Linked DNA regions of Homo sapiens. The protein of the gene in region 1 purifies or fractionates together with the protein of each later gene. This does not show direct contact. Each region holds a gene or a part of one and is shown on either strand. Other genes may lie near its edges.

Evidence for each region. Proteins that work in one complex are often made in the same cells at the same time.
Region 2: the proteins of TMEM245 (region 1) and ENPP6 purify together in Homo sapiens (co-immunoprecipitation; one large-scale study listed by IntAct). This does not show direct contact.

What each region holds. Positions count from the first base shown.
Region 1 is NC_000009.12:109,092,448-109,095,947, forward strand, and holds part of TMEM245 (transmembrane protein 245), read right to left. Parts: intron 1,145-3,500; coding exon 1,028-1,144; intron 1-1,027.
Region 2 is NC_000004.12:184,215,074-184,219,308, forward strand, and holds the start of ENPP6 (glycerophosphocholine cholinephosphodiesterase ENPP6 precursor), read right to left. Parts: upstream 2,801-4,235; 5' UTR 2,747-2,800; coding exon 2,506-2,746; intron 1-2,505. UniProt on the Homo sapiens protein: Choline-specific glycerophosphodiesterase that hydrolyzes glycerophosphocholine (GPC) and lysophosphatidylcholine (LPC) and contributes to supplying choline to the cells.

The DNA.
Region 1 (3,500 bases):
AAGCCCAAGCTAGTTAACAGATGCTTTTGTTTGACTTTGCTCTGAGTTATCTTTCTAATTTGGAAACTTCATGATGGTGGGTGTGACAGATATTTGGAAGAATGAGTCCAAAACCAAAATATCATTTCCTCTCCACTTTGGAAACATAATTCCATGTGCAAGAAAAATAAGTGTTCCTACTACACCAAATTCCTTTATCTTAGCTGACATTTCTAAAGTCAGTTCTTCAAGGAGAATTCACTCTAAATATTCCCTAACTCCAAATACCTCTGGCACTAATGGATCTCTCAGCACAGACTAAGGTGGCCTTTTACATTCTGGAACTCTGCAAGAGTACAGCATGACTCTACAGCTGGTATATCTACCAGCTGGATTCCTCAGGAGCCTGCAATTCCCAAAGCCAGGCCACACAGGACAACGAGTCCAAAACAACCAGAGGGGTCTGTTTGAGGGGTCAATATATTAACACATGAAGCATGCAAACTTTCAGAGAAAGAATGACAGAGAAATGGATGACTGCAAGATGGAAAATAAAAGTCTTCCCCAAAAAAAGGGTTGGGAAAAGGGAACAAAAGAAAGAAAAAACAACAGGAAGAGATAGGGCAAAATAAAATCATGGAGGAGAACTGACAGTTGTAGAAGAAAGAAATGGAAAATAAGAAATCAAGATAAGATATGCGTAAAGTGGAGGGAAATGTGGGAAAGGTAAATGGAGACGGAGAAAAGGAAAATAAGAAAAACAAAAGCAATGAATAACAGAAGAAAAATAAGAAAAGCCTTTTTTAAAAAGGAAAGAACAAAGAACCAAGGTAAGAAACTCAAGAAGTTACATAATTACATGTATTTAAAAAGTGATATATGAGAACAAAGATGAGAGGGAAAAGGGCATAAAAATAGGAACCAAAGAGAATAAATGAAGGATCAGCAGGAGTAAGTAGCATTTTGTGATGCTGGTGTCCTGAATTTTACTTTCTATGTACATTTCATTTTCCAGAATAACCTTGAATGTCACCAGAACATCAGTCACCTGCAGGCTGAGTGGAGGGCTGGTCTTCACTGCTTGATTCATACCCTGTGATAGAGATGGCCAAGTTTGCCAGAGTAGAAGCTGCCATGGAGATAACCTGCCCTGGTAACTCTGCCCCTGTAAAAGAAGCATCCATTTTCAAAACTCTTTAAAGTAGGAAATAATGGCTGCAAATTTAAACACAGTCCAACATTTTCAACAACAACAAAATAAAATGGTTACTACTGACCCACTGAATAAGTGGTTCTTCACCAAGGAAGAACCATTAAGAATTGACATGAAAGTGTGCTAAAAAAGCAAATCCCTTGACTCTCTGTATACCTTCCTCCTTTGGGAACTTAATGCTGGTGGATGTGGCAGACACTACACATGTAAACTTGGAGTCCCACACTTACATTTGTTAACAAGTTGATTTTAATGCATACTTCTATTGAAAAACACTACCACATCAAGTCTGTGAGCTCCCTGATCTGACTGTCTTAGGCTATGTTGTATGACTAGGTCTCATGTTAGTACGAGATAATCCACAATTGGTGGTCATAACAACATTCCACAAATGAGTATGCGAATATATGGCTATTATGCAAAACCATATAGATTTATAAATTACATAACTCAGTACAGGCAAAATCCACCACTTGAAAATCTAAAGGAACATCATGACGTTGTTTCACATTATATATTTCCATGTTAAATTCCTAATAGGTAGTACCAAGCTCAATCATTTGCACTAAATTCAAGTAAAACATTCACTGGCAAAGGAAGTCTGTCAACCTTTAACCTTCTATAGCAGACAAGGAAGAATAGCTCACATAGCATCGGGTTCTAGCACACTTTCTTGCACACTAGACTGGAGAGCTAAAAAAATTGTATTTCTTGGATTCCCCTGCAGCCGAGGTCTCACATGTGACACAGTTTCTACCAAGCAGGTACACCTGTGCAGGACTTGAGAGCCTGAAGTGGCACACTGTAATTTGAAAGCCAGAGCTCTTGTATCAAACACAGTCAGTCAGGAAGGCATATGGTTTTTCCGCAGCAACTTAGCAGAAGTTCTGATGTCTGATCTCTAACTTCACGGCGAGCAGCAGCAGCCGTGGCCCTCTGCCCAAACAGTCCTTCAGTGTCACTGAGCATTTCTCCTGATTGCACTGCTTCCACCTGTGTCAGATTCCAAGATTAATTGTCTGGTCTTTCCAGAAATTCCATGTGCAAAAATTGTAAATGCTAACCAATACCTCCTACTATTTATTTAAACTACCTGGGGTAGATTCTATTGTTCACAACTAAGAACACTAGCAATTCCTAGTCACCAAATCATACACCCACACTCATACAACTGAGACATTACTTTTGGTAGGCCAAGACTCCGTATGGCAACATAGGATTCTGTCACCCCAATGAAAAGAGCCATGATCCTTCAGAAAGCCGATGAATTTCAGCTCCAAGTTAATTAACTCCACATACCCAAATATCCAAAGCTAGCCCTCTCCCAGATAGCAGCAAGCCAGAGCCTGAGGTGGATCTTTGGTAGATTCAGACATCAGGATAAGAGTACTCACCTTGCTCAGTCATACTCTGTCCCTCCTCTAATAAATGCCCCTGTGACCTGAAAGAGTTCATTTTTAGATAGGGTATCGTATCTCTCAATATGAGAGAAATTCAAACTCATGGTCTGAGAGGAAAGCCTAAGTTAGATTTCTGGATTAGGACCTTACTCTCCTGGCCTGTGTATCCAAGGTCCTCCTGAAATGCCAATAAGACAGAAAGGGCTGACAGAGAAAAACAGTGTCTTTCATTTCTTACATGTACTGTGTGCTGGGGATAAAGACACAGACCCTGCCCCCAGGGAGTATAGTAAAGGTATGAATTAAATAACCACACAAATAAACGTGTGTATAGAAATTATGGTTGCTATAAAAAGAAATGCTGGGTATCTTGTGACATCCTAACAATATCTTGGGCAGAAGGAAAGCTGTGAGAAGAACCCGGCATATTAAAGACAGTGAAAGAAGGTCAGTGTGTCTGGAACACAGACAGCTAGTAAGAAACTGGTATCAAATAAACAAGGCTGGAGAGGTAAGCCAGATGATGCAGATCACAGAACACCACATGAAGGACTTTAGTGTTTATTCTAAGAGGAAGAAGAACGCACTGAAGAGTTTCAAACAGGATAGTAGTCTTCTTCTCACTGAAATTTTATTGAGATAAAAGTATACTCATATGCAGTTGCAAGAAATAATCCCAGTGTACCACAATTTGTCCAGTTTCCCCTGACACAAGATACAGAACAGCATCATCACTATAAGGATCTCTCGTGTTGACCTTTTATAACCACACTCAACTGCCTCTCACCCCTCTCACCACCCTGTAAATAAATAATCCATTTGAGATATAAGACCATTCTTGCTTGTCTGGAGAAAAAGAGACTAGAGGGGACCTATAACGTATGGAGAAAAGTTGTTGCAGTACTATA
Region 2 (4,235 bases), on another chromosome or scaffold:
GCAGCCCCGGCAGTTCATCTCATTTTATTTTGCCTGAAGTCTCCAAGCAAGTTCTCCCAGCTCAAGGGCCAGCATTCTTTCCAACAACTCATCACTCCTCGTTATGCAAAGGGAAGAACACCAAGGGCTTTCTGTATTCTGAGCAATAATTCGGGTAATGAAGTGAGAGCTTAGCCTCTCTTGTGAATGCTGAGGAACCCTAAAACAGCATATCTTTTGCTTCCAAAAAGATCTAGCATAGCAATTTTGTTGGTTCATAAAATGCTCAAATGCTCAAACCATATGTTTAGCTACAATTCCCAATGGCTATATCCTTCTTTATATGAGTAAAAGAGGAGGTTTTCAGCATCAGGTGGAAAAATAAGTATGGGTATTGGGGAAAATAGTCTAAATTTAACTCTGAGTCAGTTCCAAGACAGTGGAGGTGATACCAGGTTCATGGCCTGGCATTTCCCAGCCTGCGAATTCTGCTTCAAGTCTGCAAGTCTGCCCAGTAGGTACAAGACAAATCATACCCAAGGACATTTGTACAGAAACATGAGCCTTGCTAGATCCCTCCCTTGTGCAGGGTAGCTTCTATGAAACATATAGACCAAGCAGACTTCCACATCAGTGAATACATTTGGCCATCTGAAAATACAGAGACTTAACACATATGGAGACCTGTGGCTTCCTCGGGCCAGCCTCAGTTTGAAAGCAAGGGTGAGATCTTTGTCAGACACTCACGGGACCTGTGCTGCCCATAAAGGAAGGGGCCCTTCTCTCAGGACAGCACAAGGGAAAACACCCACAGCCGGAAAAGAAGGTGTGTCTCAGCATGACGGAGGCTGTGTGCAAATTATTCCTTGTGCCAATATCAGGAGTGTGGATCTGACAAACAAAAGGCCATGTCATTGGCTTAGTGTCTCTGTGGAGTCTGTAATGGTCCTTTTACTTACTTGAGTCCTTTCTAAGATGGATTTTGTTCATTTTCCACTAAGATTGCAGAAGCTGCACGTGGCGTGGCAGTTTATGAATTGGGTCCCCTGGCAAGGCTCTGAAAGACAGCTGGAGTGGGGGTGGGCTGTGTGTGTGAAGCCGCTGCACAGAGCTGGAGTCGGCTGTCCACACAATCACGTCTATGTGAGAGCCGGCAGCCTGCAAACTGCTTCCCTGCAAGGGGAGACACATGCCAGGGGAGGGCCAGAGAATTTTGTTAATTCTGTTTATCTTAGAGACTGTTTTTTTGTCTGCTGGGGGAAATAAAAAACAAATACATAACTTCCTTGCTTGTGTGCAGTCTGATTTTTTTCTCTCTCTCATGCCCTCATTTTTATTTCTCCGAAGTATCTCTCCCCTTCAGTTTGGGGCATCAGTTTATGGCATTTTTCCGTACATGTGTATATAGTATCTATGCACAAAGTCAGAGATATAAATGTCTGTTTTAGACTCTTTTGGCTTTAGTGTTCTGTGGAGGTCCATGAGATATCAGAGATCTCATTTTCTTTCTGTTAACATAATTAGCAGAGCTCTCTCTGTGCTCAGAGTGCATAGCTGAGTCCCGCATAACCAGCAATAACAGTGCATTCTTAGCAGCCTCCCTGGATAGTTTGCTAAATTCTTTCTGAGAGCCTCTCGCTGCCTTTACAAAGGTTATAGCTGAAAAACAAACCAGAAACTGGGAATCCAACTCTGTGAGCAGAGAGAGGGCTGCACATTCTATTATCGCACGGATAGAGGCTCAGGTTCATGCAGTCGCGTTTGGAGTCCTGGCAATTTCAGATGAAGGCCGTCCTTAGGAAAATCAGCTATCCCAAGCCCAGGCAGTCTGGGTTAGCCGAGGTTTTTGTTTGTTTTGTGGAGTTTTTGCTGGTTGGTCTTTTGTAGATGCTGCAAATCACAAATGGGGAACCTGAACGACACAAGCTTTTTCTTCTCCGTATCATTTTACCTGGCCAAAAAGGCAAAAGAAGGGGAAGGTGGCATTGCTAAGTCACAGGGAAGGATATGACCTAAACATCCCCCCTTCCCCAAGTAATCCGGGAGCACCACTCCCCTCTGAGGACCCCACAGGTACTTTCACAGTCCAACACACTGAGAAACAAGCCCACAGGGTGCCAGGATGACATGACCACAGAGAAAAGGGACAGAAGGAGTTTGGGACACATGCACGGACACCTGTTGCTTTTGCAGACTTGAACTTAGAAAATATGAGCCTCATTAGAATTTCTCTTTCTAAAATAAACGACCACTTTTAATATCGTCAAATATCATGTACTGCTATAGTTCTCTGTCCTCCGCACTGAGAATCCAAAACAGGTCCTTGGGATAACTTTTGGGAAACAATACCGCCACGAAAACAAAAGTCTTCTCAGCCAAGAACACAGATTTTTTTTATCTACCTTTGATGTCCCAAAGGACTAGAGAATCCAGAGCATTTAAATAAGACTCCAATGCCAGGAGCTCACTGTTCCCTGCTGGATGCCAGCCCTCCCCTCCCTGCCCAGAAGAGGACATGGTACTCACCAGTCATTAGGGTATAATAATTGGGATACGAGAGACTAGGGAAGTCTGGAGTCAAGTAATCCACTTTTACTCCCCTGCTCACAATCTCTTTGAAACCAGGCAATGACTCCAGCGCCTCATCACTGATGTAGTCTGAGCGAAAACCATCCAGCAGAAACACCAGCAGCTTCCGGCGGGCAGAGGCTGGCTGGGCCAGGCCCAGGGCAAGGGCCAGCAGGAGGGTCCCAAGCTTCACTGCCATGCTGCCAGGAGCCTGCCAGAGCCCGGCTGGCACAGCTGTCGCCTTGCAAAGACTGAGGATGGAGAATCTGTAGCTATTCTCTCTTCCAGGGGCTGGACCTTGAGCCGCTGGCCTTCCTGAGTCAAGTTCACTTGCAGAATTTAAAGGAACAGCACCCCCTTTTCCACACATCTATGCTCACCCTTTACTAGAAAGTCCAGAGACCGACTCCTTCAGATAAACTGGGTTCCAAACAACCCAGAATTAACACCAGGGGAGAGAGTTCAAACTTATTATTTTTGGTGAACGTTCCAGAAATACAAGCACCCACAGAGGTGGAATTTTAGAAGATGACAAAGTCAACACTAACTTTGCAGTTGAGCTAACCAAAGGGAGGAACCAAGGAAAAGGGCAAGATTTTAATTTGCTGTTATCCCACATCATGGCCTCATTTAAACTCTTTTTCACTTAGAATTTAGTAACGCAAACCTCTGGACTCAGTGCATAAACAGGAAACAATACGTTTCGGTGGGCCCATTTGTAAACTTCCCAGCTGTGTCTCTGTAGACACAGCACTTAAAAAAGTTATTTGTCTATGTCTTGGCCACTTATGTTTTTATATGCAGTGTTATTATTTGTTATTATTTTATTTTTCAAATGTGATTTAGCTGCTGGTGCCCATAGGAGGAGGTGGTTCGTAGAAGAGCCCTAGAGCCAATGAGAAGCTTCCAGAGTTGGACAATGGGAAATCATTACTGGCAGAATGGTCTGAAGCAGCATTGCCCCAGGAGGATGGAAATGAAATAGAGAGCTGGAGATTGAGAGCTTGAGATGGAAAAGCAGAGCTAGAAATTACCATGCAGGCTTTGGGACCGAGAAGACTAGGCGGAGTGGAAAATAGGAGGAGGTTAGTGACAGGGAGGCAGATGTGAGCTGGGGAGCAGACAGAGTTAGCACAAAGTACCCAGAGTCCAGGGGTTCCCTAGAGTGGCTCCGTCATGCTACATAAAATTAAACAACACAATTCATGTGAAGGCTTATAAAACATGGCTGAGTGCAGTGGCCCACTTTGGGAGGCCAAGGTGGAAGGATTGCTTGAGGCCAGGAGCTTGAGACCAGCCTGGGCAACACAGCAAGACCCCATCTCTATAAAAAATTAAAAAATTAGCTGGGCCTGGCGGCACGTGCCTGGTCCCAGCTACACAGGAGGCTGAGGTGGGAGGATTGTGTGAGCACAGGTGGTCATATCTGCAGTAAGCTGTGATTGTATCACTGCACTCCAGGCTGGGCAACAGAGTGAGGCCCTGCCTCAAAAAAAAAAAGACATAAAACATGCATGGTCCATAGCAAGTGTTGAACAAATGTTAGATGTTATTCGCATTATAACATTGCTTGTCTCCTGAGGAAACTTGCAGGCTCTGGGCAAACTTTCCAGGGAAGGAAGATAGACACCAGCCACACCAGCCACTCTCAGTCAACCCCAAAATCCCTCTTCCACCTCTGCCCTCTG